Homo sapiens: one gene and its partner. The protein of the gene in region 1 purifies or fractionates together with the protein of each later gene. This does not show direct contact. Each region holds a gene or a part of one and is shown in the gene's direction. Other genes may lie near its edges.

Region 1 (3,751 bases):
AACTCCTGACCCTCTTCTGAAAAAAAACCCAAAACACACTCCCTCGAGTTTGAGGGAAAGGAAAACATGGATAGGACGCTGACAGCAGGACCAAAATCGGGATTCTGAAGAATGTTTACTGAATTCAATCTACTTACCAAACCTATCGCCTAAAAAGAAAAATTTCTTCCAGTGAGTGGCTTTTGTTTTTTACCTTTCCTCCTTCGTGTGTATTTGCATAGCCTGCTCAATAAAGCCCTTCAGTAAGAATCATTAAGAATCCGTCTTGTTGCAGATCCGAGCTCCATCTCCCTGGCCGTCAGGGATGGGAGGGGGCTATCTGTGGGGCAGCGCAGCGCCCGGCCAGCCCCAGGATCCGCCCAGCCCAGATTTTGGCAGTGCCGAAGCTCCACACTTTCCTAAGCAGATGGTTAAGTTCCCCCCACGTTCCTGCCAGGTTTCAACGTCACGCTGTGATTTTGTTCTTCTGGAACCGGACGAGTGTTGCTTCCCAGAGTGGCCCTATTAGAACAGAAAGAAAATCCTCTAAATAGGCGGAACAAGGCATCAGGAGGAAAAAGTTCTCTAAATGCACTTTAATACGAGCCGGGTATTGTGTGGAATTCAGCGCCCATCACCGTTTAGCCGGAGAGTTATGGCAGTGATTGGGGATGAATAGAGGAACATAATGGATACATGTGGCGTTTGCTCATTATATTCAAGTTAGTCCAACTCCGCTGTGGAAACTGTTCAACTTTCTCTCCCCTTAGCTTGTCACAGTGAAATAATACAGACATTGGGGCCTCCAATGGGATCGCCTGCCACACCATTCTATTTCCACTGCTAACGAGGGCTTCATAAGCCTTTGATACAGTCTGATCTTTGAAACCTTTCCAAATCTCCTCAAGCTTATGCTAAATCCTATTTGGAACTTTTTTTTCCTTGCCTGCTAGCTCCCAGGGCTTAAGAAGGCCACTTGGACAGTGACGTGCATACTAACATATCGCGGGGCTCTTTTCTGAAAGGGAAGTGGCAGCTCTGATCACTGGGGCTCACACGAGCAAAACACAATTGAGTACACAAATTTGAATAAAATCAATTTTCCCTTATCCTTCAGGCTTCTTAATCGAGAGGCTATTCCAGGCACCGTAGCTAGGAGAGAAGGAAAGCAGAGCCTCATTCAGCAGAGCAAGTCTGTGGGTAGGGGGCTGCAAGGGTTTGGAAGCGTCAGAGGTGCAAAATGCAGAGTGTGTGTGTTGGCAGGGGCTGGGGGAAGGCGGAATCAGGAGCCACTGGGGTGAAACCCCAGCGTGTTCGCACTTAGTTCTAGCCGCGGCACGGAGGGAGGCAGGCGACAATTAACAAAACCATCCGCTCCTTTTACTCCTGGAGCCCTGTGCCAACTCCTCTACATGCAGGGTGCTGACAAGAAAAGGGGGAAAAAGCAAAAGGAGTTAAACAAAAGAAAGATTCCCTAATTTTCCTTTCTTGTTTTCCCCTCTAAGCCTTTCCACATTAAAGGGATTGTCAGAGGCAGGCGGAGGGGCGACGCGAGGGGGAGGCGGCCATTGGCTACCCGGCTCGGGTGATTAGCATATCGGCGGCTATAAAGGCAAAGGCGGCGCGAGGCGGCGCAGCTTCTGTAAGAGACGGAGAGGCGCAGAGTGAGGGCGGGTCCGCGCGTCCTCAGAGCCCGCTGGAGGCTCGGAGCTGCTACCCGCAGACTTCTCCCGCACAGGGCTCGCAAAGAGCGTGATTCCGAGAGCCTGAGACTGACGCCCGACCTGGAAACCAGAGAAGACTTCCTTAGCCTTTCGGATCGCACTTGAGGCTGGAGGCATGAGTCCTGTGAGGCGTTGGGGCAGCCCCTGCCTTTTCCCCTTGCAGCTCTTCAGCCTCTGCTGGGTGCTCTCAGTGGCCCAGAGCAAAACAGTCCGATACAGCACCTTCGAGGAGGATGCCCCCGGCACGGTCATCGGGACCCTGGCCGAGGACCTGCATATGAAAGTATCGGGTGACACAAGCTTCCGCCTGATGAAGCAATTCAACAGCTCTCTGCTCCGGGTGCGCGAAGGCGACGGGCAGCTGACCGTCGGGGACGCCGGCCTGGACCGCGAGCGGCTGTGTGGCCAGGCCCCGCAGTGCGTGCTGGCCTTCGATGTGGTCAGCTTCTCGCAGGAGCAGTTCCGGCTGGTGCACGTGGAGGTAGAGGTGAGGGACGTCAACGACCACGCGCCGCGCTTCCCCAGGGCCCAGATCCCGGTAGAGGTGTCCGAGGGTGCGGCAGTGGGCACGCGCATCCCCTTGGAGGTGCCGGTGGACGAGGACGTGGGCGCCAACGGGCTGCAGACCGTGCGCCTGGCCGAGCCGCACAGCCCCTTTCGCGTGGAGCTGCAGACGCGAGCGGACGGCGCTCAGTGCGCAGACCTGGTGCTGCTGCAGGAGCTGGACCGCGAGAGCCAGGCCGCCTACAGCCTGGAGCTGGTGGCCCAGGACGGCGGCCGCCCGCCGCGCTCCGCCACGGCTGCCCTCAGCGTGCGCGTCCTGGATGCGAATGACCACAGCCCGGCCTTCCCGCAGGGCGCCGTGGCCGAAGTGGAGCTGGCGGAAGACGCGCCCGTGGGCTCCCTGCTTCTCGACCTGGACGCAGCCGACCCCGACGAGGGACCTAACGGCGACGTGGTGTTCGCATTTGGCGCCCGCACCCCGCCGGAGGCGCGCCGCCTCTTTCGGCTTGACCCGCGATCAGGCCGCCTCACCCTGGCCGGGCCCGTGGACTACGAGCGTCAGGACACCTACGAGCTGGACGTGCGGGCGCAGGACCGCGGACCCGGGCCCCGCGCTGCCACCTGCAAGGTCATCGTGCGCATCCGAGACGTCAATGACAACGCACCCGACATCGCCATCACCCCGCTGGCCGCCCCAGGCGCGCCGGCAACCTCACCCTTCGCCGCTGCCGCCGCCGCCGCTGCACTCGGGGGAGCGGACGCTAGCTCGCCGGCGGGAGCCGGGACGCCGGAGGCTGGTGCCACTTCGCTGGTGCCGGAGGGGGCGGCGCGCGAGAGCCTGGTGGCCCTGGTCAGCACCTCGGACAGGGACTCGGGCGCCAACGGGCAAGTGCGCTGCGCCCTCTATGGGCACGAGCACTTCCGGCTGCAGCCGGCCTACGCGGGCAGCTACCTGGTGGTGACCGCGGCGTCGCTGGACCGCGAACGCATCGCCGAGTACAACTTGACGCTGGTGGCCGAGGATCGCGGCGCGCCCCCGCTGCGCACAGTGCGGCCCTACACGGTGCGTGTGGGCGACGAGAACGACAACGCGCCGCTCTTCACGCGGCCGGTCTATGAGGTGTCGGTGCGCGAGAACAACCCGCCAGGCGCCTACCTGGCCACGGTGGCCGCCCGCGACCGGGACCTGGGCCGCAACGGCCAGGTCACCTACCGGCTGCTGGAGGCCGAGGTGGGCCGCGCCGGGGGCGCCGTGTCCACTTATGTCTCGGTGGACCCAGCTACCGGAGCCATCTACGCGCTGCGCAGCTTCGACTATGAGACGCTGCGCCAACTCGACGTTCGCATCCAAGCTAGCGACGGCGGCTCCCCTCAGCTTTCCAGCAGCGCCCTAGTGCAAGTGCGCGTGCTGGACCAGAACGACCATGCGCCAGTCCTGGTGCACCCGGCGCCAGCCAATGGCTCCCTAGAAGTGGCGGTGCCTGGGCGCACCGCAAAGGACACGGTTGTGGCCCGTGTGCAGGCCCGGGATGCAGACGAGGGAG
Region 2 (3,651 bases), on another chromosome or scaffold:
ACATGGGGGATGCAGAAGCCAGGTCCTCAGCCATGGAAGGTCTGGGGAAGGGGCACTGCTGTCCTGATTGGGACGATGGAGGCCTGGAGGTGTCTGGATGGTAGAAGTCTTTGAGGCACAGAAAGCTGCCTTAGCAGGGAGGTGTAAGGGTTCCTGGGAGGAAGGTGGAGAGCATGATCCTGAGGAACAGGGAGTCTTGCATCACGGCAATGGAGGGACTCTGATTCTAAGGGATAAGGATGCCTGAGGTTTTTCCAGAGAGCTATGGGGTTCCATGGGCAGGCTCTGAGCCTGTGCCCGCCACTAACCCCACTGAAGCCCGTCCCTTCAGGCTGATGCTGGTGGAGGAGGAGCTGCGCCGGGACCACCCCGCCATGGCTGAGCCGCTGCCAGAACCCAAGAAGAGGCTGCTCGACGCTCAGGTGGAAATTACAATGTCATTTATCTTCTCCGTGTCCCATCCCCATCCATCCCACTGTCTTTCGTGCACTCACTACACCAGCCACCTAGCCCCATCACCATCTGTCTCTCATAGTCTGCTGTTTGTCCACTGGCTGCTCCTGGCAGCCCCCTAGTGACCCCATCTTCATCCCATCGTCTGTGCCTTTGTCACTCCTGGCAGCGTCAGCCCAACTCCTGTGCCTTCCCATCCAGTCTTCCCACTCCTCTCTGCATCTCAGGACCTTCTCTACCAGAACCTTGGTCTTTCTGCCCCTAGACCCCACCTAGTTCCAAGAACCCCTGCCCCTTCTTTGCTCACTCCTATTCAAGCCACGTTGTTCAGCTTCCTCTGCGCTCTTGGGCCAGAGGGCTAGAAGCTGCCGTTTTCTGGAATAGAGCACAGGGCAGTATGATCTGTAGTTTCTCCAGGCCCTGGCCGGTACCCTGAAAACTTGGGGACCCATCACCTCTGTTCTCTTGGCTCCCTAATTTTCCTGTCTCCTTGGCAGCTCCTGCATAGCTTCCTCTTCCTGACTCTTCAGATCTTGAAGGCCTTCCATCCTGTAACCTCCCTTTGCCCTCAGTATTTAAGTCCAGCCTCCCTCTGGCCTCCCTCCCACTCTGGCCCTCAGACCTTCCCAGCTGCCTGCTGCCCAGCCTCTCTTCTCACAAGCCAGCTTCTAGGACCTCCCTTCTGCACCCTTACCCCTTGCTTTCCCAAAATTCTGCTCATTTTCCTACCCATACTCCTCTTTGCTCTGACTGCTAGGCTCCCCCCGCCTGCCATCCCCCCACCAAGGCTCCTGACCCCATGACCCCACTCTCTCCCACTGCAGCTCCTCATCAGGTAATTCTCCTGGTTCCGCTTTGGCCACGGGCGGAGGACACAGGGGGAGGTGACTCCGGACCACTGCAGGTTGGTCGTGAAGCCCACTCCCTCCAACACCTCCGGAGCCTCTCCCCTCTCACTGCTGCCCTCCACACCCAGAGAACCTCCACAGACTCCAGCCCTCCGACACCTGCACAGATCCATCTCCCAAGACACCACCCAAAGAGAGCATTTGCTGCTGCTTCCCAGAACTGTCCAACAATACCTTAGCAACACCAAGAGTTGGGCCCTAGATGGGCCCAGCACATTCACAGGTCACACCCACTTCCCTGCAAAACCCACCCCCTCCCAGCCTCCTCCTGACTCTAAGCCCTCCTCTTCCTCTACCTCTCCAGTGTATGTCTGTCACCCCCCATTTCACCAGAGCGTCCTTAGGGGCTGGGGGTGGGTTTGTTAATGGGGTGGAGGCAATGATGGGTTGGAGGATCTTGGCTATAGGGGCTGTGCTGACTGCAGCAGGTAGGTTGGGTTTCCCTCTTCCTTCCCTAATCTTGGTTCTCTACCCTCCTTTCCACTCCTCACCTGATTCTCTCTCTTCCTCCTCCTTATATCTGTGAGGCAGAAGGCATCTGAAGCTCATATTAGCCCCCATTGGGTGGGAATTAGGAGTGGGTAGTTAACTCAGGGAGACTTGAGATACCCTGGAAAAAATGCTATTGAGATGTCCTGACATTAGGCAGGGTGGATGGAACAAGAAGGAGCAAGAAAGGAACCTCAGGCAGATGTTAGGACATGGACTTGATCATGTGGCCTGGGAGTTTAGAAATGGGGAGAGACATCCTCCTAGATCAGATCGTGGGCTCAGTAGGCATGTTGATTCCCAGGGAGAGGTGCCAGGAACAGCATGGTAAAGAATGTACTCTTCACAGCTCACATCCCCAGGTTGCTGATGCCACTCACTCCCCCTCTCCTGCCATCGAGTGGCCTTGCCGGACACATCACCCTACCTAAAAAGCCAGTAAATGAGAACCTGTCAGCTATAGCCATCATTTCTGAGATGCGATTTTCTTTGGGATTGAGCTGCAGTGGGCAGTGGCTCCTTACACTGTAATTTTAATTCTCTGCCTGCCCAGCCTCTCTGTCAAAGTAGCTGGTGATCTATAAAGATGCTAAAAGGCACCAGGGGACTTTGCCATTTAAAGGACTCCTGCAGTGAATTCTTTTGTAAAATGAATAATGGCACCCTAATTTATCCACTTTCTAAATTTGGGTCCATGGGGGTGTCCAGGGCATGCTTATGTGCTGTCACCAGCAGACAAACAGAGGGAATGGAATCTGGGGGTTCCTTCCCTGCTCTCCCGCCATACTCAGGATACCCTACCATAAGTGATTTCCTCTCACTGACTTGCAGAAAATGTGTGAGATACCCAGCAAGCTAAGAAGGCAGTTTTGCTGGGTATCTCATACCCAAGGCTGGGGTTTGGGTGATCTGAGAGGTTAGCTCCTTGATCCTAGGATGGAAGGGAGAGCTTATATAGAAGCTTTTACTTGGAAGGTTTTGTATCCTAAGGTCAGACATAGCTATATTACCAAGCCTAAATGCCATGTGGCCCAGGAAATAATTTGGACATTTGTTCTAAACCACTTGTGGTAGGTATTGGTCTCTCTGCAACTCAGCCATTAATTAGAAATTAGTTTTGAGCCTGAATTTTAAAAAGCCAAGTGTTGCCCCCAGCCCACACACACACACACGGACATGTACAGTACAAACCCCAGATAATTACAACAGCCAAAGAGAGAAGGAAGTGAATTTCCCAACCAGAAGCGTAGGGAAATTCAGATGGCTTTCTTTTCTCCCAGCAGAGGAACAGAAGGCGGAGCTAAGGGCAGGAACCAGGAGTTGGTCAAGGAGCTATAGGAGGTGATGAGAGTAGAACCAGGGGTAGGAGCTGGTCTGGTACCCCTCACCCTCTAATTGGGAGCCCAGGGAGAAGGACTGAAAAGAAGATGGGAGTGGAAAAGAATAAAGCCAGTTTCTGCTTCCCAGGGATGCAGAGATTGGGGCATGCTGTGTCTGCAGAAGCTCCTAGTCATTTCCGCCATAATTGTGAGAGAGAGGGGCAGCCCTCCCACAAGATTTTTCCCTTCCCATATCACTTCCCTGAATCCCCTTCCTTTCCCCCCAGTACAGTTAAACCTCTCTCTAATTTGGAATGTTATATTTGAGAAGATGGCCACTGTGAATAAGTGACAAACGGAATGACAGTGTCTATTTAATGAAATGCATGTCTTCAAAATATATACAGAACTCGATGAACAAGGCTTTTTCCACTCCTCAGGGAGCATGCATTAATGAATAGATAGGATTCAAAAGTCTGTTT

What was found. Proteins that work in one complex are often made in the same cells at the same time.
Region 2: the proteins of PCDH8 (region 1) and SYNGAP1 purify together in Homo sapiens (co-immunoprecipitation; one large-scale study listed by IntAct). This does not show direct contact.

Annotation. Positions count from the first base shown.
Region 1 is NC_000013.11:52,846,504-52,850,254, reverse strand, and holds the start of PCDH8 (protocadherin-8 isoform 1 precursor), read left to right. Parts: upstream 1-1,614; 5' UTR 1,615-1,818; coding exon 1,819-3,751.
Region 2 is NC_000006.12:33,447,512-33,451,162, forward strand, and holds part of SYNGAP1 (ras/Rap GTPase-activating protein SynGAP), read left to right. Parts: intron 1-318; coding exon of another isoform or gene 319-331; coding exon 332-422; coding exon of another isoform or gene 423-425; intron 426-1,277; coding exon of another isoform or gene 1,278-1,292; exon of another isoform or gene 1,293-3,651. UniProt on the Homo sapiens protein: Major constituent of the PSD essential for postsynaptic signaling. Inhibitory regulator of the Ras-cAMP pathway.